Homo sapiens: one gene and its partners. The protein of the gene in region 2 interacts with the protein of the main gene of each other region in a pairwise test. Each region holds a gene or a part of one and is shown on either strand. Other genes may lie near its edges.

Evidence for each region.
Region 1: the proteins of TMPRSS2 (region 2) and PTTG1IP interact in binary tests that used the Homo sapiens proteins (3 or more experiments, as listed by UniProt).
Region 3: the proteins of TMPRSS2 (region 2) and BNIP2 interact in binary tests that used the Homo sapiens proteins (3 or more experiments, as listed by UniProt).
Region 4: the proteins of TMPRSS2 (region 2) and NINJ2 interact in binary tests that used the Homo sapiens proteins (3 or more experiments, as listed by UniProt).

Annotation. Positions count from the first base shown.
Region 1 is NC_000021.9:44,849,668-44,856,695, forward strand, and holds part of PTTG1IP (pituitary tumor-transforming gene 1 protein-interacting protein isoform 1 precursor), read right to left. Parts: intron 6,698-7,028; coding exon 6,526-6,697; intron 5,590-6,525; coding exon 5,543-5,589; intron 1,961-5,542; coding exon 1,914-1,960; coding exon of another isoform or gene 1,700-1,913; 3' UTR 1-1,699. UniProt on the Homo sapiens protein: May facilitate PTTG1 nuclear translocation.
Region 2 is NC_000021.9:41,463,798-41,470,179, reverse strand, and holds the end of TMPRSS2 (transmembrane protease serine 2), read left to right. Parts: intron 1-1,641; coding exon 1,642-1,784; intron 1,785-2,293; coding exon 2,294-2,446; intron 2,447-4,026; coding exon 4,027-4,038; coding exon of another isoform or gene 4,039-4,060; 3' UTR 4,061-5,875; downstream 5,876-6,382. UniProt on the Homo sapiens protein: Plasma membrane-anchored serine protease that cleaves at arginine residues. Participates in proteolytic cascades of relevance for the normal physiologic function of the prostate.
Region 3 is NC_000015.10:59,679,315-59,686,342, forward strand, and holds part of BNIP2 (BCL2/adenovirus E1B 19 kDa protein-interacting protein 2), read right to left. Parts: intron 3,201-7,028; 5' UTR 3,144-3,200; coding exon 3,094-3,143; intron 995-3,093; coding exon 927-994; intron 455-926; coding exon 278-454; intron 1-277.
Region 4 is NC_000012.12:653,428-660,455, reverse strand, and holds part of NINJ2 (ninjurin-2), read left to right. Parts: intron 1-7,028. UniProt on the Homo sapiens protein: Its role in unclear. In contrast to NINJ1 paralog, does not mediate plasma membrane rupture (cytolysis) downstream of necroptotic and pyroptotic programmed cell death.

The DNA of each region.
Region 1 (7,028 bases), 3.4 Mb from region 2:
GTTACAGTTTTGTGGCTGCTCTTAGTGTATTTCAGAAAAAAGCAGATGGACGAAGACCGACCTTACAGACGTGGGTTTCTACACTGAGCGCAAGGGCTGACTACGCTGTATTTCACAACCGAGCCCTAGCGCCAGCTCAGCACCCTACGCTCAGGAAGCGGATTTTGCACACACACTACTGCATTCATACAGAGTTCACTGAAGTCTATTACCAAGTGTCTTTTATGAATAAACAATACAAAGTCCAATTTTGATGGCTGCTATAAAATACTTAGGAATCTCTGCAATACTTTACTACAAATACAAATGCCCAAGAGGTCAGGGAAATCAGCCTGAAGAACTGGGTACAGGTTCTATTCTTTGTGGAAATTTCAGCCTAGGAATGTTATTCCCGGTACAGATGTACACAGTCAAAAAGGCTTATCGAGCTGTTTGACGAGTTCTTGAAGTGTTCTGGATCAGTGATCTGCCTGTGAACTTTAGTTCACGCTGAAGACAGTCTTCTCAGTTTTCATGACTGTGAAGTGTGAAAATGGAACGCATCCTTGATCTTAGGTGCTGCTGACCTACTTTCCCAAAGCAAAATGTTTTAAAATTCAAGGCAATCTGGAACAGGGACTATTTCCAAACTTCCTTAGGCAGCACTTTTCAGTGACTTCCCCGCACGCTGCTTTCCCTGCCACGAAGCGCTTGGTCTGCTTACTAAAGCCACGTATCCTGATTTTACAGAAACGTGGGCAGGTCCAGCAGTGCCACTGGAGAGCTCCCAGAGAAGCCCACTCAGAAGGAAGTGGTCAGACCACCCTCGAGCCAGAGCGGCTGGAAGCTGGACTGGTCCCATGAGGCAGAAGGAGCACCAGCGCCTGCTGGGTGGTGTGGGGAGAGCCCTCAGCTGACTCTGGACACACCTGCTTCCGGGGCACGTGGCCCAGAGCCGGGCCTGTGGACGGGCCTTTCTTTCTTCTTGGGGTGGACCCCGTCCCCACGATCCCTAAATGGCCACCCCCCAGACAGCCCAACAGGCAGCGAGAGGCCTGCAGGCACTGAGGATGCCAACAGGGCTGGAGAGAGCTGCAGCGTCCTGCCCCGTCCTCCCCACACCGCTGGCACACGAGCAGTCAACTGGTGCTGCTGAGGCAGGCCAAACACCACATTTATAATTCAAGCTTCCAAGGGAAAAAGATTCTCATGTTCTAGTAAAGATACAAATTTTAAAAATTGTCCAAAAAGGGCCTGAATTTTTATATGAAGGTTTTCTGGTGAAATCTTTTAAGCAGGGAGGAAAATCCAATAAATTTTTTTAAAAAGGTTTAGCTATTCCCCAATGCTATTTAATACAATTGAGGTTAGGACGTTAAGTCCTTATCAGACTGTGTACTGGAGCCCCGTGTCATCAGCAAAAGCCGTGTGAGTCAACAGGTGTGAAGACTCAAGATGCGCACACAGACGCTGTCCGTGGTTTTATGGGGAATGATGAGGGCTGGTCAGTTCTCCTCATGACAAAAGTCAAACCGACTTCCCTGTGTTGCGTGTGAAGCTTGTTAGTGGACAGAGAGAAACGCAGGGTTCTGCCCTGGGAGAATGACAGCCACAGCGCTGGGTGCCGTCAGGCGGCTTCGTGTGCAGTTAGCGTTTCACAAACTGAGAAGAGTATAAAAAAGCCCAAACCCCAAAGATTTCTTATTTCAAGTGACTAAATCTAGAAACAGAGATGAACAGGGAATAGAAGGTCACCAGTCTGCAAGACGAGAGGACTGTCCTTCAGGGGCAGCTCTCCGGCCGCCTGTCCTGGAAGGCTGGCAGGTTCACTGGCCAAGGTCAGGAGACCGCAATGGCCACGTGGTCTCCCGGCTGGGCTGGGCTGCGGAGCGTGCACCTCACAGGAAGCGTCGGGACTGATGTGCTGGAGCGCTTTAGTTGTTTTCAAATCTAGCATACGGGTTTTCTTCTTTAAACAGGCCTGAAACAAAATAAACTTGAATCATAACTTCATTCATTCAACCAGAAACAAAATCTTAGAAAGCCATACAAACCAAGCTTTATAAGAAGATTTACTGAGGCTATAGCAACAACGGGCATTGTAAGCAGGCTCTCATACAGTGCTTAACCTTTTTTGAAGTCAAACCACTTTAAACTTTAAAACTGAAATAAAATTTACTAGAAACAAGAACTCTAACAGATCCTAAGAGATAAGCACTTACTTCCTGATGCTCGGCGAAGAAAAGAAATTTAAGGCAAGTATTTCTTTCCACAGTGGTTGGCTAGTTCCACAGTGGATGGCTACTATTAAACAAAATAACCTTACTTTGTGCTTATAGCTGCTCTTAAACCTTTGGAATTAAGGCTACAGAAAGAACTAAGATGACCATCAATCTAACTCTCGAGTACTCTGACAAAACTGGGATAAAATGTGTATTTAATCATAAGAGTAAACCTGTGCTACTTACCCAAAGACCAGGAGTTTTCCCTTCACACTGCAGAAACACACACACATACACACACTCTCTCTCCCTTTATTTTTTATTTTTTTTTGAGACAGAGTTTTGCTCTTGTTGCCCAGGATAGAGTGCAATGGCGCAGTCTCGGCTCACTGCAATCTCCGCCTCCTGGGTTCAAGGAATTCTCCTGCCTCAGCCTCCGGGTAGCTAGGACTGCAGGCACCCACCACCATACTTGGCTAATTTTTGTATTTTTAGTAGAGACGGGGTTTCACCATGTTGGTCAGGCTGGTCTCGAACTCCCAACCTCAGGTGATCCACCACCTTGGTCTCCCAAAGTGTTGGGATTACAGGCGTGAGCCACCGTGCCTGGCCTCTCTCTCCCTTTAACAATCTGTATTGTACACTAAAATTATCTGCAGCGATTACAACAAAGCTACTCACTGCATGTATTCTGGGGGCTGGGTGGAAGAGGCGGCGGGGAAGCAGAGGGATGGTAAGGAAGGGCCTAGCCATGTTTCTTTCTTGCCTGTCAAGGAGGGCCACAGGCATCAGGCTTTGGGAGTGAGGCTCAAAGTCGGTTTTGGGAAAGAGTCATCAGATACTAGCAAGGAGGCTGGTTAAGTTCTTATTGAAAAACTCGCTCCTGAGTCTACTTCCAGTTTAGAGGGAAAACCAAAACCAAAAGAAGGGTTTTTGCGTGCGTGCTGGTATTTTATATAACTGCACCAGGTGGACTCACATGCTTTCTCGCACTCTCCCATCAGGAATTCCTAGGAATTCTTCTAACTAGCCGAGGCTTTCCAAAGCACAGGCCATTCAATGGCTTTATTACAAACTGGCACAAAAAGCTCATTTCATCAATGCAATTAAAGGGCCAAATTAACCACCAAAATGGCAAGTGCAAGTCAATCAGGGCCCTGACACAGAAGACACCACTCCAAGAGCCTGGCCGGCCACCCACAGCCTCACACCCGCTGGGAGTCAGGGCACAGTAAAGGTCGAGCAACTTAAACACAGCTTGTGCTTGGTGATAACAGGTGCTGGGCAGTGTGTGCGTGTGTGCGCGTGTGCGTGTGTGTGTATCCACCTTGTCTTTTATTTACATTAACATTAGTCTGGCTGGGTGTGGTGGCTCATGCCTATAATCCCAGCACTCTGGGAGGCCGAGGCGGGCGGATCACGAGGTCAGGAGATTGAGACCATCCTGGCTAACACAGTGAAACCCCATCTCTACTAAAAAATACAAAAAATTAGCTGGGCGTAGTGGTGGGCACCTGTAGTCCCAGCTACTCAGGAGGCTGAGGCAGAAGAATGGTGTGAACCTGGGAGGCAGAGCTTGCAGTGAGCTGACATCGCGCCACTGCACTCCAGCCTGGGCGACAAGGTGAGACTCCGTCTCAAAAAAAAAAAAAAAAAAAAATTAGGTGCCAAAAAGCTCTTGACTCTTCCATTTCAAGGAAAGCACAATGCCTCCAGCCAAGGCCTGCAGAGATGCTGCTGGGCCCACGCTCCACGTACACAGGCATGCACTCGCTGAGGAGGGCAACCCTGGTGCTGCTCCTTATGACAGTCACACGCAGGTACCCGGTCACCACCCACTCCAGACACACACCGGGAAACAACAGGCGACAGAGAGGGTGGGGCAAGGACAAGGCAGCAGTGAAGAGAACCCAGAGAGTCAGCGCCCAAGCACACGGCACTCAGGAGACTGATGGGCGGGAACACATAGGAAAAAGCCTCTATCAGCCACTGGGCATCTCGAGGCCAGCAGCCAAGGCAGCCTCACGCCCCCAAGCCGACACTTCGAGACCGGCAGGACTCACGTGGCCTCAGGTCACAGCACAGTCACATGGAGGTGACTTTCCAAGGAGGCCAGAACTGACAGGGAGGGGACGTCCCGGCCAGTGGGCAGAGCCACCCAGCGTTTACAGTCCAGGGCACCAGCAGCATGGGGCCTCTGCAGCCCCCATGAGAGGGAACCCAACGCCAATCACCTGCACCTGACGGAGGCGCCGCTCACAGTGGCTGCTGGGCTTTGCCGTCCACCCCCCACCCGATGACCGAGAACCGCAGCGACGTCCTCATGCCCCCAGTGGGTGGGACCCTAAAATACCACAAATATATGATATTCCCTAAAACAAACAGAAGACTCAAAACACGTGCATTAGTCAGAAAAGGCTCTGAAATTTTCCAATTAGGTTTAGCCTTTAATATACTGCTTCAAGGAAAGCACCGTGGGCGCAGGACGACAGATTCCTGAGGCCCACGGCTGCCATGAACCCAGGACCACGCACCTCGCACAGGCGAGGAGTCAGTTCCCACCATGTCCATGACGCCACACAACCACAAACCCAGCGCGGGAGACGCCCATGACACCACACAACCACAAACCCAGCGCGGGAGACACTAGACTCTTTGCGGACTTTAAAATCATACAGAATCAACGAAGCACGGCTGGGTGGTGGTGTTCAGTGTTAAGCAGTGAACATCACGTGGTTTGGGGGAGTATAGATAACGTAATGTGTATTTCCAATTCACTCCAACTAAATAAAAGGTTTACACTTGGCAAATACATTCATTCTGGCTCCTTCAAAGCTCCTCTCCAAAATCTCTCCAGACACAACCAAACAAGAACAGAACGCCGAGGCTGGGCGAGAAGGAGCAGGGCCGGTGCTGGGGAGTGCTTGGAAGGAGCGCCTGCCACACTCAGAAGATGGCAACGAGCAACGCTCCCGAGGATGAGAGGGCCGCCCTGAAACTCACAGCACCTCGGCTACGCAGGCGTGCCCACAGGAAGCCAAACACGACGGCAGAACAGCTGCAGACTTCCAGCCCAGAAGTCTTGGGACTCGATAAGCAAACAGCTATCTGAGAAAACAGACTTCATGAAGACGACTGGCTGAGATAAAGATATTCTTAGGAGTGAGTTCACCACAGAACCGCTGGGGACAACCGCCAGCTGCTCCTCTCTGGAGAGACGTCCTTCTGTTCCGATGGGTGAACCCACAGCCCCATCTCAGGCCACACTGGCACTAACGAGGACCGAGACAGCGTGCCATCGCCTCCCAACCAGACAAAAAGGAGGCGTGACCAGTCCTTACCATATTTTTTTCTGATTTCATCATGTCTTGTCTTCATCTCTGCTCTCCTAAAACACAGAGGAACATTATGAGCACCAAACGACAGCGCACGGTGGTGTAACTGCTAGACACGCCCTTCCGTGTCCCTCAGTGGGGGCGCCAGGTTTCTTCTGGTGGCTTCCCTCCAGTTCCCAGAGTGAAACCAGGGTGAGGACAAGCTTGGTCATCAGGCCACATACCCACCAGGACAGGCAAGGTGACAACGAACCCAGTCTTCAAAGGCCGTTCCAATGTATTACTCTACTCTTTTCAATAAAAGCAATTCAAATGCCCAATACCGTGATTTTTAAAAAGCTTTTTTCATACAAAGAAAACACAGTAAAAATCATACACCAGGTTCTGAAGATGGTGAGGAAAATGCGATTGTCAGCTTTTACTTAGTAGCATGTGACTTCAAGGTGACTACATGGAAAATCTGTCCCGCTTCCACCCTCGCCCGCCGCCAACCTGACAGTTGGCCCCTCAGGTCCTCTCCTTTGCCAGGTGTGGATTACACCACCTCCTCCTGGGGTTGCCCCAGAGCCCCAGCAAGCACTCAGGAGAGTGCTGTGTCACCAGGGAAAGGGCGACAGGAGAGCTGACCCAGCCACAGTCAGACGCTGTCCCCTCTGAGCCTCAGCTTGCTCTTGGCAAATGCTGGGCCTGGACGAGCCGCCTTAGCAGCCGTCACACACCCGTGTCACCGCGCACAGACTCAGCCTTACTGCACCGATGGGAGGACACCGGGCGAGGAAGCCTATAGAAGCAAGGTTCGCAGCCACTGCTAGGTTCCCATCACAGTCTCTCGCTCTCTACCACGACCTAGAAGATCCCCTGGGCACTATACACATTCTTAATTTCTAAAAACTGAGGAAAACTCAGGATGTATCCATGTGATTTCCATGGCCTTGCAGATCTGAATCCCCTCGAAGTAACCTTCCCAGCGGGCATCACCACCACCTCACCGTTCCTCCTGCCGTATCCGCCTCTCCTCCCGCTCACGCATGGCCTTCTCCTCACTCCTGTCCGGCTTCCGGCTCCTCTTCCTCCTGCAGCAGCAGCAGCAGCAGATGGCAATGCCCAGGAGGAGGGTTCCCCCGACTACCGACATGGTGATGATCAGCGCCTCAAAGTTCACTGGAGATTCAAGCACCTGGAGTTAGGGCCGCCCCAGACACAGAACCCACCCAGCACAGCAGCCTTCCCTCGCCCCTGGGGAACAACCTCAGGACACAGGAGCATAAGGAGGAAAGCCGCCTCGGCCAGGCTGCTGGCTCCTGGCGTGTGGAGAGCCTGTGGCCCTGCCTCCACCCCACAGGGTCCCGCCCTCTCCAAGTCTCCTTTCAGCCACACGTTCCTATCTGTGACTTAGAATTTATTAACAATTTATAATATTAACCATAATGAACTGAAGTGACAGGGTAGTCTGTCTCAGCTGAGTTTGAAAAGGTATTTCAAGCCTGAGAAA
Region 2 (6,382 bases):
TCTCTGACAGTCTTTCAAATGAAGGGAGCCTGGCTGCTTCATTTTTATGGAGGGTTGGAAGTGCTTAGTGGCAGGCACAAAGGTTCATTTTACATATTGTTTATATCCTTCTCAAAAGCGTCTAGGCCATACAGACAACAAATCCTTTCAAACAAGGGGAAAAGTACAAAGGTTGGGTGATTTCTGGGGAGCGTCAGGGAAGGTAGTGGGGGGCATCCTGGCTCCTCATCAGCAGAAACTTACTACAGTAGAGCCACAGGCTGGGCAAAAGACCTCATGGAATCCAAGATGAAGGGAATATCGACAAATATTTGTGCGCACCTGCACCTAGTACAGGCTGGGTGCTACTCAGGTGCTGGGAATGCAGAAGTGAACAGAGTAAGACAAATGTCTCTGCTGTCAGGAGCTTTACCTCTCTTCTGGATGTCGGTGGTGGGGACGGGGCAGGTGTGGTCAGACAGATGGGAGACAAACAACTGAGCGAGGTACTTCCAAACATCTGAGGGTGGGGATCACAAGGTCCCGGCTATTTTGAAGGGGTGGTCAGGAAAGGCTTCTCGGAAGAGGTGGCATTTGAGCTGAGACTCAAATGGCAAAAATGTGTACACATCAAAAAGGCTAGTGCATGTATCTTCAGGTGTGGTCAAGGGGCCAAGGAGGTGGGCTGGGGCCAGATTGCATAGGTCCTTGTGGATTATGGTGAAGACACCAGCTTCTCATCTGCTTGAGGTGGGGAGATCGTGAGCCGGGGAGTGCCATGATCTGGCAGCTGCGTGGGGAGTGGGGATGAATGGATGGAGACGAGGATGATGGTGACAAGTCCATTGCTGTGGTTCCTTGAGACAGGAAGCCAGCTCATAGCAGAGTGCGGGCGTGGATGTGAAGAGATGAGGGTACACTAGGGCTAGAGCCACCAGACTTACTGATGGGTTGCATGTCTGTGGGAGAGAGAGTGAGAAGTCAGGGACGATGGCTTTCCACTCTGTGGCTGAAGCCCCAGGGTGGCGGGTGGTGCCATTTTTCAAGCCAGGAAATATTGGTTGGTGAGAATTTGGGGTGGGAGAAGGTGTGACGGAGGGTTCTGGTTTTGCACACTAAGCCCACGGTGCCCAGAAGATGCCCGAGGGGAGGCAGCAAAGCGAGAGTGGGAAATGCAGAGGTGGCAAGTGCAGGCCGTGTCTTGAGAAGCTCTAATGTGCAGGGGAGCCGAGAAGCAGGCGGCCTAGGGAGGGTCACGTGTGCTCCAGAAGAGTGTGTGCATGCCAGAGGGGAAACAGGCGCCTGTGTGTCCTGGGTGGGGTTCAGTGAGGAGTGGGAAATTGGTTCAGCAGAACCAAGCCGTTGGGTGAATAAGAGGGGGATTCCATGGCACTGATAGAGCCCTATAGTTTCAGAGCTGGGAATTTCTTTCCCTGAAGCTGAACTCCAGAGCTGCATTCAGCACAGGCACCGCCAGTTGTAAGGAGAATCCAGGTTTCCCAGGAGAGGGGTTGGTGCTGGGATGAGCTGACCGGGGCAGGGCTGGAAAATAGGGCTGTGACCATCTGTGTAGTGCGTGTGGAGGTCTCAGGGAGGGAAGTGTGCTCTCCCTGCGAGAGCTGCAGGCAACACTGGGAGCTCAACAAGTCTCCCTGTCCTTAGGGAAGACCTCAGAAGTGCTGAACGCTGCCAAGGTGCTTCTCATTGAGACACAGAGATGCAACAGCAGATATGTCTATGACAACCTGATCACACCAGCCATGATCTGTGCCGGCTTCCTGCAGGGGAACGTCGATTCTTGCCAGGTAATTCAACATTTTTATTCTACCTTTGGTCCTTACCAGATCCTACTGAACCCCCCATGAGAGAGAGGGCATTCTTGGGGTCAGCAGAGCCTCCTCAGTGACACGGAGCCAGCTCGGGGCAGTCATGGGAAGTGACGGCCACAAACAGTGCGAACGCTTCTGGTGGCAGAAGGAAGTACAGTCAACAAATCACACACACCCTCTGAAAAACCGGTATTTGGTAAAAGTGCCAGTGGAACAGAAACAAGTATTTAGACTATTTTAAATTATGAACGGCAATTTATTTAGTAACTTTTAGCTTGAACAGATTAAAATTCAGGATGGGGGCTATCTCTTTGGGGGTTACATCTCTGTTACCATCACCCCTTGATGGTGGAGATTCGAAGCCCACACAGTCACTCGTAACTCACACTGCGACCCCCGCCCCCCAACTCCTCTAGGCCTGGTCAGTGGTGTGCGGCAGATTGTGACTTGATTTTCTGCTCTCTGTACCTTGCTGTGTCCCACAGGGTGACAGTGGAGGGCCTCTGGTCACTTCGAAGAACAATATCTGGTGGCTGATAGGGGATACAAGCTGGGGTTCTGGCTGTGCCAAAGCTTACAGACCAGGAGTGTACGGGAATGTGATGGTATTCACGGACTGGATTTATCGACAAATGAGGGTAACTATCCTGTCCTCCTTCTGACTGTGTTCTCCGATTCCTCGAGCCAAAGCCAGACATCTGTTAGGCGTGGTTCTGCTGCTGGAAGCTGACTGGTGACCACTGGTCAGCATGAAGCAAACTCTGCTTCCTCCAGCCACAGCCCCATCCCCCCAGTGTCCACCCATTGCCCATTGCCTCTCACTGGCTTCACTTGCATATTTCCCCTGGTGTTTGGATGAAAAGCGCTGGGGCTCAGCTTGTGTGAAATTCCTTGGTGCTCTGCCAACCACACTTCGTTCTGGCTCAGCTGACTCAGCTGTTCCACCCAGGCCACCTCACATCAAACTTTTTTTTTTTTTTTTTGAGATGGAGTCTCACTGTGTCGCCCAGGCTGGAGTGCAGTGGCACAATCTCGACTCACTGCAACCTTTGCCTCCTGGGTTCAAGTGATTCTCCTGCCTCAGCCTCCCAAGTAGCTGGGACTACAGGCATGCGCCACCACGCCCAGCTACTTTTTGTATTTTTAGTAGAGATGGGGTTTCTCCATGTTGGCCAGGCTGGTCTCGAAGCCCTGACCTCAGGTGATTCACCCACCTCAGCCTCCCACAGTGCTGGGATTACAAGTGTGAACCACGGTGCCCGGCCTCACATGAAACTTTTGATTTATAGAGAGCAGAGGGAAGAGCCGGCTGTGCCCATCCTTTTCTGGGGCCATCGAGTGGCTCCTGGGCAGCCCCCAAGGTTAGGAAGGGCAGGAGCAGCCAGGGTTCTCTGATGCCCCAGACTCAAGCACGAGGGAAGGTCTCAGGGGTTCCATGTGAGCCTCATGGATGTCTCTGCTTAGCAGAGCCCTGGCTTTGGGCATTGTCCAGATAGGGGGTGAGAACCAGATCTTCTCATCTCCAGGACCTCAGACGTATAGTTTTCTCAGATTTCTGTGCTTTCTGGGGCTGGGCTACTAGTGGAAGAAAGCAGTCTATTCTGTCTTCTCCCAAATCTCCCAGATGCCCAGTCTGTTGAAGGAGGAGCAGAACCAGGGGGCCTTTCCCGCTGAGGCCCGACCTGTGTCTCCTTCAAATGACACGCGGGACTCAGGGCCTTCCCATGACCATGGGGCCCAGGGGGCGTCACCTGGCCCAGGGCCCAGTGCTAGAAACAGATGACCCCAGGAGGAGGAGGCAGGGCAGGAGGGAAGCTGGCAGGGCTGGGATGGTCAGCCAGGCTGAGGGGCGGACTCGCACCAGGATGGAGCTAGGAAATGATCCAGGTGTGTTTGGCGGCTGCAGGTGGGTCCGCATGGCTGTGCAGGGAGGGAAGGGCTGCGTGGCAGGAGAGCAGCCGGGGGAGGCCCAGACTCTGCTGAAGAGATGCCTGTTGTGCCGGCCTCCACATCCGCTGCCCGCTCCTTCCGGAGCTCCTGCCCCGCCATGCTCAGCCTGACTCTGACCAACACGTTGGAGAGAAGAATGATCCCTTTGTGCTATTAAGCTTGCTTATTTGGTTTCTAAGTGCTTCATGCGAACCTAGAGGAAAAAATTATTTTCCACCTTTGTTTGTCTTAAGAAAATAACACACTTTTTTTTTTCCTATTTGAACAGGCAGACGGCTAATCCACATGGTCTTCGTCCTTGACGTCGTTTTACAAGAAAACAATGGGGCTGGTTTTGCTTCCCCGTGCATGATTTACTCTTAGAGATGATTCAGAGGTCACTTCATTTTTATTAAACAGTGAACTTGTCTGGCTTTGGCACTCTCTGCCATTCTGTGCAGGCTGCAGTGGCTCCCCTGCCCAGCCTGCTCTCCCTAACCCCTTGTCCGCAAGGGGTGATGGCCGGCTGGTTGTGGGCACTGGCGGTCAAGTGTGGAGGAGAGGGGTGGAGGCTGCCCCATTGAGATCTTCCTGCTGAGTCCTTTCCAGGGGCCAATTTTGGATGAGCATGGAGCTGTCACCTCTCAGCTGCTGGATGACTTGAGATGAAAAAGGAGAGACATGGAAAGGGAGACAGCCAGGTGGCACCTGCAGCGGCTGCCCTCTGGGGCCACTTGGTAGTGTCCCCAGCCTACCTCTCCACAAGGGGATTTTGCTGATGGGTTCTTAGAGCCTTAGCAGCCCTGGATGGTGGCCAGAAATAAAGGGACCAGCCCTTCATGGGTGGTGACGTGGTAGTCACTTGTAAGGGGAACAGAAACATTTTTGTTCTTATGGGGTGAGAATATAGACAGTGCCCTTGGTGCGAGGGAAGCAATTGAAAAGGAACTTGCCCTGAGCACTCCTGGTGCAGGTCTCCACCTGCACATTGGGTGGGGCTCCTGGGAGGGAGACTCAGCCTTCCTCCTCATCCTCCCTGACCCTGCTCCTAGCACCCTGGAGAGTGCACATGCCCCTTGGTCCTGGCAGGGCGCCAAGTCTGGCACCATGTTGGCCTCTTCAGGCCTGCTAGTCACTGGAAATTGAGGTCCATGGGGGAAATCAAGGATGCTCAGTTTAAGGTACACTGTTTCCATGTTATGTTTCTACACATTGCTACCTCAGTGCTCCTGGAAACTTAGCTTTTGATGTCTCCAAGTAGTCCACCTTCATTTAACTCTTTGAAACTGTATCATCTTTGCCAAGTAAGAGTGGTGGCCTATTTCAGCTGCTTTGACAAAATGACTGGCTCCTGACTTAACGTTCTATAAATGAATGTGCTGAAGCAAAGTGCCCATGGTGGCGGCGAAGAAGAGAAAGATGTGTTTTGTTTTGGACTCTCTGTGGTCCCTTCCAATGCTGTGGGTTTCCAACCAGGGGAAGGGTCCCTTTTGCATTGCCAAGTGCCATAACCATGAGCACTACTCTACCATGGTTCTGCCTCCTGGCCAAGCAGGCTGGTTTGCAAGAATGAAATGAATGATTCTACAGCTAGGACTTAACCTTGAAATGGAAAGTCATGCAATCCCATTTGCAGGATCTGTCTGTGCACATGCCTCTGTAGAGAGCAGCATTCCCAGGGACCTTGGAAACAGTTGGCACTGTAAGGTGCTTGCTCCCCAAGACACATCCTAAAAGGTGTTGTAATGGTGAAAACGTCTTCCTTCTTTATTGCCCCTTCTTATTTATGTGAACAACTGTTTGTCTTTTTTTGTATCTTTTTTAAACTGTAAAGTTCAATTGTGAAAATGAATATCATGCAAATAAATTATGCAATTTTTTTTTCAAAGTAACTACTGCATCTTTGAAGTTCTGCCTGGTGAGTAGGACCAGCCTCCATTTCCTTATAAGGGGGTGATGTTGAGGCTGCTGGTCAGAGGACCAAAGGTGAGGCAAGGCCAGACTTGGTGCTCCTGTGGTTGGTGCCCTCAGTTCCTGCAGCCTGTCCTGTTGGAGAGGTCCCTCAAATGACTCCTTCTTATTATTCTATTAGTCTGTTTCCATGCTCCTAATAAAGACATACCCAAGACTGCAATTTACAAAAGAAAGAAGTTTATTGGATTTACAATTCCACATGGCTGGGGAGGCCTCACAATCATGGCAGAAAGCAAGGAAGAGCAAATCACATCTTACATGGATGGCAGCAGGCAGGGAGAGAGTTTGTGCACAGAAACTCCCATTTTTTAAACCATCAGATCTTGTGAGACCCATTCACTATCACAAAAACAGCACAGGAAAGACCCACCCCCATGATTCAATTATCTCCTATCAGGTCCCTCCCACAACACATGGGAATTATGGGAGCTACAAGATGAGATTTGGGTGGGGACACAGAGCCAAACCATATCATTCTGCCCCTGCACCCCCCAAATCTCGTATCTTTACATTTCAAAACCAATCAGGTCTTCCCAACAGTCCCCCAAAATCTTAACTCATTTCAGCATTAAGTCAAAAGTCTACAGTCCAAAGTCTCATCCAACACAAGGCAAGTTGCTTCCACCTATGAGCCTGTGAAATCAAGAGCAAGTTAATTACTTCCTAGATAC
Region 3 (7,028 bases), on a different chromosome or scaffold from region 2:
TTTCTTACTTGATTGACTAAAAAAGAGCATGCCATAATTATCAAGAAATATTTTTGAAACAGCTATGAAAAAAACATGAGAGCAGTGGGCAAATAAGAGGGGAAAAAAGCCACTGGTGTACTCTATACACACTTTTTAAGTCCTTGAGAATATTCAAGGGTTAGCACAATTTCCTATCTTAGTAACAAATATATGAACTTTAGAAAGAATGATGTATTTCAAACAAAATCCCTTAGTACATTAATAAAGATCAGATTAAAAACAGTGAAACATTTACCTTCCCACTCAAACTCATTACTATTCTCTGACGGTGTGTCTAAGCCATCTAAGTCAATCTCCCCACTTTCATCCAAATCATCTGACAATACAGAGCCATCACTAGGATCCAGTGTCAGGCTAATGTCTGGAGCCATTAGTTTCTTTCTCACTTTATTTCCATTAACTTCTAGTGAGCCTGGAATTGGAAAATAAAGAAAAAGATACGTAACAAGGAATGCTTAGATGCTAAAGTTGAATAAGAAAAATTTTAACTACCCCATTCTTGGGAAAAAATAATATTAATTGAACATAATTTCAAAGCACCTATTCACAAAATTTTTATTCTGATCATTATTGCTTCTACATCGTTGGCAAGAGATCAATAAAGTATCAATGTCTTTTAAATAGAGGCAGACCTTATAGATACCTCTTACCACTAAAAATGATCTCCTCCACCCCTTTACTGTAAAACTTTCCAAAAACCAAGTGTATGTTTTTGGAATTTTTTTTAAAGCATTCTAAAAATGCTTTCCTCAATGTTCAACTTATACTTTGACTTCTATGATGGAATAAAAACTCAAGTTTTTTTTTTTTTTGGACAAAGAAACGTGTTTTAAAAAATAACACAAAGTCCATAATTTCAATGAAAGTAAGTGTCAAGCTCTTACCAGGCTGGTCCTCTGGTCCAGTTATAGCTAGTATATCTGCTTCAATACTATCATCTTCTGGTAAAGGTCTAGAAGACACAGGCATACTTTTTAATCCAGAAATTAAGAAAGAATTTTTTTTTGAAGTTCAATCTATTAAACATACAGCTTATAGAAATAATTATTTGGAAAATGGAATAAAGCAGTGTTGTTGTTTTTGAGACAGGGTCTTGCTGTCTGTCACCTAGGCTGGAATACAATGGCACAATCATGGCTCACTGCAGCCTTAACTCCTGGGCTCAAGAGATCCTCCCGAGTATCTAAGACTACAGGTGCGTGCCACGACGCTTGGCTAATTTTTAGTAGAGACAGGGTCTTGCTATGTTACCCAGGCTGGCCTTGAACTTTTGGGCTCAAACGATTCTCGTGCATTGACCTCCCTAAGTGTTGGGATTACAGGCATGAGCCACTGTGCCCAGCCTAGCAGTGTTTAAGATAAAGTCTCAGCCTTCTGAGTAGCTAGGACTACAGTGGCACACCAACATGCCCAGCTAATTTTAAAAGTTTTTTTGGTAGAGACCGGATATTGCTATGTTGCCCAGGCTGGTCTCAAGCAATCCTTCTGCCTCGGCCTCCCAAAGCACTAGGATTATAGGCGTGACGTGCTATGCCTGGCTACACTTTCAAAGTAAAAATTCTGACTGTCAGAGCTGACTTATACACTTATTATATATAAGTAACACATAAAAGTAGATATAAATTCCTTATGCAACAGCTCTTATACAATTATAAAACATGTAACAATTTTAAACAAATATGACTGAAATGCACAAATATAATGTGATGTATGATGCAATGTATGAAGCTCAATTTTTACTCACGAGACTACAGTAACAATGGTTCAATTCTTCTGAGATCAGCATTCCTATATTTACTATCACCACCATATGCAACAGTGACTCAGGTCTCCGATCAGCTGTCCAACTGCTAAGCTATCCAACTGCTAAGGCACCTGATTATGCACTAGGATGTCTTCTGACAAGTACGGCACGGAAGCACTATTTAAACTTAAGGTCTGCCTTTGCTCTCTTTTTCATTAGCCTACCTGGTGCCAATATAATTGTAAATACAAATGCAAACATGTCAAGGTGGCTGGCCAGATAAGCTAGAAAATCCTTATTAATTTACTTAGTAAGGTTTTTTTTTTTTTGGTGGGGGGGAACCCACAAATTTTTTTTTTTTTTTTTGAGATAGAGCCTTGCTCGGTCGCCCAAGCTGGAGTGCAGCAGCGCGACCTTGGCTCACGGCAACCCCTGCCTCCTGGGTTCAGGTGATTCTTGTGCCTCTGCCTCCTAAGCAGCTGGGACTACAGGCGAGCGCCAAGCCTGGCTAATTTTTTGTATTTTTAGTAGAGACGGGGTTTCACCATGTTGGCCACGTTGGTCTCAAACTCCTGGCCTCAAGTGATCTGCCTATCTCGGCCTCCCAAAGTGCTGGGGTTACAGGCGTGAGCCACCGCACCTGGCCACAAAATTAAAGAAACATTTTAAAGACAACTAAAGACCTCCTTCTCTGAGGAATCCCTCAGATCTTGTTTAAATGAAAACAAAAACAAAACAAAACAAACAAACCACACTAAAACACTTTATTATAAAAGCAAAAATTTGCAAACTTAAGTGACCAAAACAAAAATGAAAGATTATAGAAGATTATATATATACTTGGTTGGAAAGTAAGATACAAGAGAATCAATCTAACTGTTCCGAAGAAACTTTACTTCCTAGTATCAAATGATCGCCTTGTATTACTGAGTTTCTCAGTGACATCTCAGCTGTGCAGTGGCTCACACCTGTAATCCCAGCACTTTGGGAGGCCAAGGCAGGCAGATCACGAGGTCAGGAGTTTGAGACCAGCCTGGCCAATATGGTGAAACACCGTCTCTATTAAAAATACAAAAATTAGCCAGGCGTGGTGGCGCACACCTATAGTCCCAGCTACCTGGGAGGTGGAGGCAGAAGAATTGCTTGAATCCAGGAGGCGGAGGTTGCAGTGAGCTGAGATCGCGCCACTGCACTCCAGCCTGGGCAACAGAGCAAGACTCCGTCTCAAAAAAAAAAAAAGTAACATCTCGATAAAGAAATTTTGAACTTTTGCTCTAAAATTGTTTTCTTTTAAAAGCATTGCTCACATCGGAAAATCTTCATCTTGCCATTCTTCTTTAAGTTCCACACCTTCCATCCTCAGCCTGGATTCAATGTCAACTACAAACTCTTGATAATCCAGGGAGCCAATGTCCTATGAAGAGAGAAAAATGTATAACTTAATTTCCACTTTACTTTTTATCCACTGAAAAGGCGTAATAATCTTATATATTAGTTCATACTTGATGTTTAGTACAATGGTCTGGTCATGAAATTCATTTACAGGGTTGCAATTTTTTTTTTTTTTTAAAGAAAAGAGAATACTCAGACTACATATATTCTGGGAAAGTTAAATACTGTTTATAGTAAGGATACTGTTCAGTGAAAATACTTGTTTTCAGTTGCATGTATAGTATCTCAGGTTATGATTGAAAATATATTTCATACTATGGATTATATTAAAAAATTTGAAGTGGGGTAAGAAATAAAAATGTTCTTTATTACAGACTCATAATTAAATTTTCTGTCCCTTGGATAGAGGTTGATTCTAGACCGTAAATAATAGTAAATCAATAATATTTAAACTCATGATTCAGCAGAGTCAGGTGGTGTGCTGTCTTTCATATTTCCTTCTCAATAGTTTGATGCCACAATTCCTGAGCCACTTAAAGAAGTCTATTCAATAACTTGTCCCGTAAATGAATTATGCAATCTTTTGATTTGTTTCATATCTATACTATGCCCTTCTCATATAGCTCGGCATATGTTTTCAAACACTGAACTTGGTGAATGCCCTTTTATGCAACTACGTATTTTAACATATGCCATGAACTTTAGTTTTAGTTTTTCCAAGGAATCACGTGAGTCCAATATCCTCATTTTAAAAGTAAGAAATCTAGAGATACTCCCTCTGGTGATGGAGTAAGAAATAGAAGTTGAGGTAAGGTAAAGATCAACTGGTTAACAATGCAACAAAACAGTGAAAACTATAGAAGGAAAGAGGTATACACGAGTATTTAGTTCATTTACATTCAAGTCAATAGATGTCTAAAGTTATTCAACAAACAGCAGTAACATATTTCTGTTCTTTTCTTTTCTTTTTGCAGTAACATATTTAAGAGATACGGAGCATCACTAGCAGTACTAAAAATAAAGTTAAAAGTCGTTGACACTAGGCCGGGCGCGGTGGCTCACGCCTGTAATCCTAGCACTTTGGGAGGCCGAGGTGGGCGGATCACTTGAGGTCAGGAGTTCAAAACCAGCCTGGCCAACACGGTGAAACCCAGTCTCTACTAAAAATACAAAAACATTAGCCGGATGTGGTGGCAGGCGCCTGTAATCCCAGCTACTTGGGAGGCTGAGGCAGGAGAATCGCTTGAACCTGGGAGGTGGAGGTTGCAGCGAGCCGAGGTCACACCATTGCACTCCAGTCTGGGTGACAGAGCAAAACCAGTAGCAGAGGAAAGAGGGTGAAATGCAGAAAATGACTAATGCTTTTCATAGTAAGTCCGTCTATACCATTTGATTTTTAAAACAATACTATCTGTGACTTTAAAAGATATTTATTAAATAAAATCAATTATGTCAGCCATTCACATCAACCAGTCTTCTAAAAGAAAAATGTGGTCATGTCCTATAGCTATCTTATCTGCTACGTCAACATTCAAAAGATGCACAAAGTTACAAAGAAAAAAGCCTTATGTTCCGTAATGACAAAATTACAATGGAAATATCCTGAAGTGTTAGATTTCACAAGGTAAACTAAATTTGTATCTCTGCCAAGGCTGGAAGACTCTCTTCCCAGTTTGAATTTTTACTTACCCTCAAGAGAAGGTTTTAAACATTCCCAAAAGGTTTCAATGTTTGATGATACACTTGTTACCACAGAAAAAAAATGGTAGATGCTGACTTTTCCACACCAACTTATTTGCTTGAAAAAGTCATTTACATATAGGAGTAAGGTTTTTAATTCTCTGGGAAAACAATGATCTAGGCAGTTTTTATAAGTTAATGAAAAACATTTAAAATAATCTTTACTTATTTAGCACTTTCTCTGTTGGGAGGGAAAAATAAACAAAAAGAGGGACACCTACCTTACCAAACAATCCCCTCTGTTTAGAACAGAAATAGTAGAAAGGAGCCCACAATTACAATCAACAAGCCCAAATGGTGAAAATACTTACTACTCTAGAATTACAATGCTCAAGTGAGACCAAAGCATGCTATGACTAAAGGCTGAAAACTGGTAAGTCTTTTCTAGATGTTTAATTTACTGTATTTCCCAATGTTTAACTTTTCTTAAGTCTTTGGTACTCACTCTAAAGCGAATGATGTATTTTCCTAAATTCAATAATCAGAAAAGCTTTCTATTATCTTGTCGTACCTTTTTATTGTGTGTTGAAAAACACACCAGGATGTTGTCTGGGTGTCTTTTTCAAATATCTCAAATACTCAGAAAAATATTTAGCATTTCAAAAATAAAAGCAGAAACTGAAAGTTGTACCCAATATATTCCCAACACCTACCATGGTGCCTAGCACATAACAGGCCTATAAAAATTAAGTAAATAATACTTACCTGTAGGGTATGGACACTGGTCAGCAAACCTTTGCTCAATCTCTTAGGCTTATTTTGCTTATTAAACTACATGAATAGGATTTGTCATGTGTTACCCCATAAAAATGTAACAAAAATATTCTGTGGGAAACTACACACCAGCAATATTAATTTCTATTTGTAAAATTGTTCCTCACTGGTAAGAGGAAAGGTTTATCTTGGGAAATTCTAGAAGACAATCCATTCCTTTCAGCTGCTTAACCAATGGAACAAGTTTGTCTCTGTGAAAACAGCTCCTTGAGGCCGGACGTGGTGGCTCACACCTGTAATCCCAGCACTTTGGGAGGCTGAGGTGGGCGGATCACCTGAGGTCAGGAGTTTGAGACCAGCCTGACCAAGATGGTGATACCCCGTTTCCACAAAAAATACAAAAAATCAGCCAGGCGTGGTGGCGCCTGCCTGTAATCCCAGCTACTATGGAGGCTAAGGCAGGAGAATCGCTGGAACCCCAGAGGTGAAGGTTGCAGTGAGCTGAGATTGCACCACTGCACTACAGCCTGGGTGACAAAGGGAGACTCTGTCTCAAAAAACAAAACAAAACAAACAACAACAAAAACTAAATAGCTCCTCGAAACACAGGCAGCCCAAGTCTTTCAGCTATCTCAGCCTATTTATTCCATTTTTACCTTAATATCATATTGAATCATGTGTTAATACCTCAGCACATAGACATGGATATTTAGTTTGAGGATAATCAATTATCTAGTTAAACAGAACTTGGGGAGAGAGATATAGATAGATTTACTCTACCATTTCATCATGAATTTTAGGGGAAAAGTACACTAGGTAGATCAAAACAATTTAAACAATTGAGGGAGTACTGTTTCTTGGAAGCACTTTATCATCAAACAGCTGTTAAGAACAGGAAACAAACAAGAAAGGAGTTAATATAACCACAACCTCTTCGAAGAAAATCAGGATACTGCTGACTCACAAGTTAACTGTTGTTGCTTCCCATTTCTTGTTCATGTATTTTTTTTTGGAAATTAGAATGGGAAATAACACTTTAAGATGATATTTGTTAAAATAACCTGTTGGCACAGGAATAACTTGATTTCTCAATAGATTGACTCTTGGTAGTGGTGGCACATCCTTATGCCACTTACTTGTTGCAGTCATAAAGATAAATTCAAAACAGTTGTTGACCTTAGGTTAAAAATCAAAGAGATAATTGATTCCTTCTGACATAGCTTCAAGGGGGAGGAGTACTGGTAAATCCAACCAGGATGAAGCAGCTTTCCCCAGGCAGTTTAGCAACATAAGCAAAAATTAAATGTTAAGATCACATTTAGGCCAGGCTCAGTGGCTCACTCCTGTAATCCTAACACCTTTGGAGGACAAGGTGGGAAGATGGTTTAAGCCCAGA
Region 4 (7,028 bases), on a different chromosome or scaffold from region 2:
GGCAGGAGAGTTGCTTGAACCTGGGAGGCAGAGGTTGTGGTGAGCGGAGATCGTGCCACTGCACTTTTGAGACTCTGTCTCAAAAAAAAAAAAAAGAAAAGAAAAAAGAAAGAAAGCATAACAACTTATCAGACCTGTGATTCCTTTTTTTTTTTTTTTTTTTTTTAACAGACAGGATCTTGCTGTGTCACACAGGCAGGAGTGCAGTGGTGCAATCTTGGCTCACTGCAGCCTTAACCTCCTGGGCCCAAGTTATCCTCCTGCCTCAGCCTCCTAAATAGCTGGGACCACACATGTGCACTACCATGCCCAGCTAATTTTTTTTTTCTTTTTTTAGTGATTGGGGTCTCACTGTATTGCCCAGGCTGGTCTCTAACTGCTGGTCTCAAGTGATCTTCCTGTCTTGGCCTCCCAAAGTGTTGGGATTACAGGCATGAGCCACATGTCCAGGCAATTCCAACATTTTTATTGCTTAGGATGAGCCTCAAGTAAGTGGCAGGAAGTTTTTTGACACCTTTATACAGTCCTTGCACATGACCTGGGCATACCCTCAATGTCTTAGTAACTGTTTCTGTCTGACCTGTTCAGAAGTACGGCAGCCCTGGGTGACATGGATCACAGGTGTGTGTGCCCGCACCTACTACTGCACTGAGACGTTGAAACCCTGAACATGGCACAACTGAAGTTTGGGAAACTCTAATCTAAAATAACATTAACTTGAGCCTCTATAATCAATGTTGCAAATGTATCTCCAGGTCAAGACCTGTGAGACTGGGATGGGTAGCAGCAGCACAGCTGGCTGTGAAGAGTGGCGCACAGCACTCAGGGCAGGTGGCCTCCACCAGCTGGATGCCTGGAGCTGCTCCTTCTGTTCTATGGCCTGTGGCTGTGGCCTCCAAGCCTCTGCCCTTCTCCCTGCCTTCACTGGTAGCCCTGCCAGGGAGCTAAGCCTGCGCATCTCCCAGAGTCTGGATGTGTGAAAGGTTGAGGATAATCCCTTTCTTCCCCTTCGAGCCAGTGTTGCAACCCTACCCCCAAGTACAGAGTTTAAGCCCCTAGCCTGGCTCCTTCCCAAAATGCAGCTCCTCTTGGGCTTCCAGATTCCCCAGGCAGATCCAGTTATTGGCCCCTTTTTTTCCACCTGTGCTGCATGTTGATGGAAATGTGAAGATGATCTGCCAAAAGAGGAACTAAGACTTGTCCAAACCGAATGCAAATTCAGTATAGCTCAGGTTAAGTAGAGCGAGATACAGATAGAATGAGATGGGAGTGGAGGTAAAAACACTTATGAATAGAAGAAGGTCTATAGGCAAAGTACTCTGGGAGTGTTTTTGTTTGTTTGTTTGTTTTATTGTTTTTAAAGACATATATATATATAAGCAGTTATATATTATATATATATTATATATAATATATAATAGCAGTTATATATAGAGAGAATAGCAACTATATATGTAATAGCAGTTTTAGGTTCATGGCAAAATGGAGAAGGAAGGCCAGAGATCTCCCATATAGCCCCTTGCCCCACATGCATAGACTCCCCATTATCAACTTCCTCCACCAAAATGGTACATTGTTTTTTTACAACCGATGAGCCTTACATTGACACATCATTATGACCCAAAGTCTACAGTTTACATGAGGGTTCACTCTTGGTGTTAAACATTCTATGCGTAATAACATGTTTCCACCGCTATAGCATAGTATAGTATAGCATAGCATAGCATTAGCATAGCATAGCATAGCATAGCATAGCATAGCATAGCATAGCATAGCATAGCATAGCATAGCATAGCATAGCATAGCATAATAGAGAAGTTTCACTGCCCTAAAAATCCTCTGCATTCTGCCTCTTCATTGCTCCTTCCCCTCTGAACCCCTAGCAATGACTGACTTTTTGTTTTGCCTTTTCCAGAGTGTCACATAGCTGGAATCATACAATATGTAGCCTTTTCAGATTGCCTTCTCTCACTCAGTAATGGCACTGAAGTTTCCTCCATCTCTTTTCATGGCTTGATAGCTCATTTCTTTTAAGTACTGAATAATATTCCAGTGTCTGGATGTACTACTGTTTATTTTATTCACCTACCGAAGGACATCTTGGTTGCTTCCAAGTTTTGGCATTACGTATCATTCTGTATAAAGCCACTCAGCTGGGCGCAGTGGCTCACACCTGTAATCCCAGCACTTTGGGAGGCCGAGGTGAGTGGATCACTTGAGGTTAGGAGTTCGAGACCAGCCTGGCTATCGCTAACATGGTGAAACCCCACTTCTACTAAAAATACAAAAATTAGCCAGGCATGGTGGCAGGTGCTTGTAATCCCAGCTACTCGGGAGGCTAAGGCAGGAGAATCGCTTGAACCCGGGAGGCGGAGGTTGCAGCCAGCTGAGATCGCACCACTGCACTCCAGCCTGAGTGACAGAGTGAGACTCTGCCTCAAAAAAAAAAAAAAAAAAAAAAAAAAAAGCCTGTGTAGGTTTTTGTGTAAACACAAATTCTGAATTCATTTGGGAAGATACCAAGGATTGCAATTGCTGGATCATATGGTAAGAGTGTGTTGAGTTTTGGAAGAAACTGCCAAACTGTCTTCCAAAATGGCTATACTGTTTTGCATGTCCACCAGCAATGAATAGGTGTTCCACATTCTCATCAGCATTTGGTATTGTCAGTGTTCTGGATGTTGGCCATTCTAGTAGCTGTGCAGTGATATCCCATTTTTGTTTTAATTTGCATTTCCCTAGTGACATAAGATGTGGAGAATCTTCTCATATGCTTATCTGCTACCTTTGCATCTTCTTTAGTGAGGTGGCTGTTCAGGTTTTTTGCCCATATTTAGTGGGGTTACTTATTTATTTATTTATTTTTTGAGAAGGAGTCTCGCTCTGTCTTCCAGGCTGGAGTGCAGTGGCCCGATCTCAGCTCACCGCAACCTCTGCTTCCCGGGTTCAAGCGATCCTCCTGCCTCAGCCTCCTGAGTAGCTGGGACTACAGGCATGCGCCACCATGCCCCGGCTAATTTTTGTATTTTTAATAGAGGCGGGGTTTCACTATGTTGGCCAGGCTGGTCTCAAACTCCTGACCTTGTGATCCACCCGCCTCAGCCTCCCAAAGTGCTGGGATTACAGGTGTGAGCCACTGCGCCCGGCCTTATTTTCTTGTTGTTGAATTTTAAGATTCTTTGTCTGTTTTGGATAACAACTGTTTATTAGATGCATCTTTTGCAGATATTTTCTCCCAGTCTGTGGCTTGTCTTATTCTGTTGACATTGCCTTTCACAGAGTAGAAGTTTTCAATGTTAATAAAATCCAGTTTATTATTTCTTTCATGGATTGTACCCTTTGGTATTGTATACAAAAAGTTGTAAGCATATTCAAGGTCATCTAGATTTTCTCCTATATTATCATTTATGAGTTTTATAGTTTCGCATTTTACATTTAGGTTTATAGTCCACTTTGAATTAATTCTTGTAGAGGGTGGAAGGTCTGTGCTTAGATTCATATTTTTACACGTGGATGCCCGGTTATTCTGGCACCATTCGTTGAAAAGACTATCTCTGCTACATCGTATTGTCTTTGTTCCTTTATCAAAGATCAGTTGGGTCTATTTCTGGGTTCATTATTCTGTTCCATTGATCTATTTGTCTATTCTTTGTCCAAAACACATTGTCTTAATTATTGTAGCTTTACAGTAATTTTTTTTTTTTTTTGAGACAGAGTCTTGCTCTGTCACCCAGGCTACAGTGCAGTGGCGCAATCTCGGCTCACTGCAACCTCCACCTCCCAAGTTCAAGCGATTCTCCTGCCTCAGCCTCCCGAGTAGCTGGGATTACAGGGGCCCGCCACCACATCTGGCTAATTTTTGTATTTTTAGTAGAGATGGGGTTTCACCATCTTGGCCAGGCTGGTCTCGAACTCCTGAACTTGTGATCCACCAGACCCTACCTCCCAAAGTGCTGGGATTACAGGTGTGAGCCACCATGCCTGGCCGCTTTACAGTAATTCTTCAAGTCGGGTAGTGTCAGTCCTCTGACTTTGTTCTTTTCCTTCAGTATTTTGTCACCTATTTTGGGTTTATTTTATTTTATTTTATTTTTAGACAGAGTCTCACTCTGTCTCCAGGCTGGAGTGCAGTGACGTAATCTTGGCTCACTGCAACCTCCGCCTCCTGGGTTCAAGTGATTCTCCTGCCTCAGCTTCCCAAGTAGCTGGGACAACAGGTGCCCACCACCACGCCCAGCTAATTTTTTGTATTTTTAGTAGAGATGGGGTTTCACCATGTTGGCCAGGATGGTCTCGATCTCTTGACCTCATGATCCACCCACCTCAGCCTCCCGAAGTGCTGGGATTACAGGCGCGAGCCACTACGCCCTGCGGGTCTTTTGCTTCTCTATATAAACTAACTATACAATTAGTTTGTTGATATTCACAACTGATTTTGATTGGGATTGTTTGAATCTATAGTGAGTCCTCTTATCCATAAACATGGAATATCTATCTATCTATTTATTTTATATTTATTTATAAATTTATTTATTTATTTATTAAGATGGAGTCTTGCTCTGTCACCCAGGCTGGAGTACAGTGGCACAATCTCAGCTCACTGCAAACTCCGCTTCCCAGGTTGAAGCAATTCTCCTGCCTCAGCCTCCTGAGTAGCTGGGATTACAGGTGCGTGCCACCATGCCCAGCTAATTTTTGTATTTTTAGTAGTGACAGGGTTTCACCATGTTGACCAGGCTGGTCTCGAACTCCTGACCTCAAGTGATCCACCCGCCTCAGCCTCCCAAAGTGCTGAGATTACAGACGTGAGCCACCGCGCTTGTCCCCTTCATTTATTTAGTTCCTTGATTTATTTAATCAGTTTTGTAGTTTTCCTCATAATAGATATTGTACATATTTTGTTAGATTTATACATAGGCATTTCACTTTTTTAGGTGCTAATGTAAATGGTAGTGTTTTAAGTTTCAGATTCTACTTGTTCAGTGCTGTTTCATAGGAAAGTGATTGCATTTTATGTATTAACCTTGTATCCTGCAACCTTGCTATAATTGCTTATTAGTTCCAGCAGATTTTTGGTCAGTTCATTTAGATTTTCTACATAGACAATCATGTCATCTGCAAACAGAGATAGTTTTATTTCTTCACTCCCAATCTGTAGTCCCTTCATTTCCTTTTTCTGAAGGAACTACATTGCATTTACTAGGACTTCCTAGCAAAGACTGGGAAACTGCTAAGACTTGTTCATACTGAATGCAAATTCAATGTATGAAGCAGTGGTGACAGGAGACATCCTTGCCTGTTTCTAATCTTAGTGGGAGTGCTTCTACTTTCTTATCATTAAGTATGATGTTAGTTATAGGCTTTTTGTAGATATTCTTTATCAAATTGAGGAAATTATCTAGTGTACTGAGAGTTTTTATCATGAATGGGTGTTGAATTTTGCCAAATACTTTTTCTACATCTATTAATATGATCATGTGATTTTTCTTTTTTAGTCAGTTGGTGTGATTAATTACATTAATTGATTTTCTTTTGTTTTTATTTTATTCTCTTTTTTTTTTTTTGAAATGGAGTTTGGATCTTGTTGCCCAGGCTGGAGTGCAATAGTTGATCTCAGTTCACTGCAACCTCCACCTCCCAGGTTCAAGTGATTCCCCTGCCTCAGCCTCCCGAGCAGCTGAGATTACAGGCGGGTGTCACCACGCCCGACTAATTTTGTATTTTTAGTAGAGACAGGTTTCTCCATGTTGGTCAGGCTTGTCTTGAACTCCCAACCTCAGGTGATCCACCCACCTCGGCCTCCCAAAGTGCTAGGGTTAAAGGCGTGAGCCACTGCACCTAGCATTAATTGATTTTCAAATGTTGAACCAGTCCTGCATACCTGGACTAAACCCCAGTTGGTGTGGTGTATAATTCTTTTTTTTTTTTTTTTTTGAGACGGAGTTTCACTCTTGTTGCCTAAGCTGGAGTGCAATGGCATGATCTCGGCTCACCGCAACCTCTGCCTCCCGGGTTCAAGCAATTATCCTGCCTCAAGGTCCGGAGTAGCTGGGATTATACGCATGTGCCACCATGCCCGGCTAATTTTTATATTTTTAGTAGAGACGGGGTTTCTCCATGTTGGTCAGGCTGGTCTCGAACTCCTGACAGGTGATCTGCCCACCTCGGCCTCCCAAAGTGTGGGATTACAGGCGTGAGCCACCGTGCCTGACCCCATCCATTTACTTTTAATCCGTATGTGTCTTTTTTTGTTTGATACAAGGTCTTACTCTATCACCCATCACCCAGGCTGGAGTGCAGTGGCACCATCTTGGCTCACTGCAGCCTGAAATGCCTTGGCACAAGCAATCCTCCCACTTCAGCCTCCCAAGCAGCTAGGACTACAGGCACAAACCACCACACCCAGCTATTTTCTTATTCTTTGTAGAGATGGGGTCTCACTATATTGCCCAGGCTAGTCTTACTCCTGGCTTCAAGTGATTTTCCCATTTCAGCCTCCTAAAGTGCTGGGTTACAGGGGTGAGATACCACACTCAGCTGATCTATATGTATCTTTATGGTTAATGTGAGTTTCTTGTAGACAACATACAGTTGAGTCTTCTTTTTGTGTCCATCCTGACAATTTCTGCCTTTCAATTATGCACTTAGACCATTGACATTCAAAGTGATTACTGATATAGTTGGATCTACCACATTTGTTACTGTTTTTCTATTTGTTACCCTCATTCTTTGCTCCTATTTTTGTCTTCCACTTTTTTTTTTGCCTTTGGTGGTTTTAACTGAGCATTTTATATGTTCCTGTTTTATCTCCATTCATAGTGTATCAGTTGTACTTTTTTTTAACTTTTTTTAGTTATTGCCCTGGAGTTTGCAGTTTACAAGTACAACAAATCCAAGTGCACTTTCAAATAACACTATACCATTTCATGGATCGTGTGAGTACCTTATGATAACAAAACAATCCTAATTCCTCCATCCTGTTCCACGTATCATTGCTGGCATTCATTTTACGCACATATATGTATACA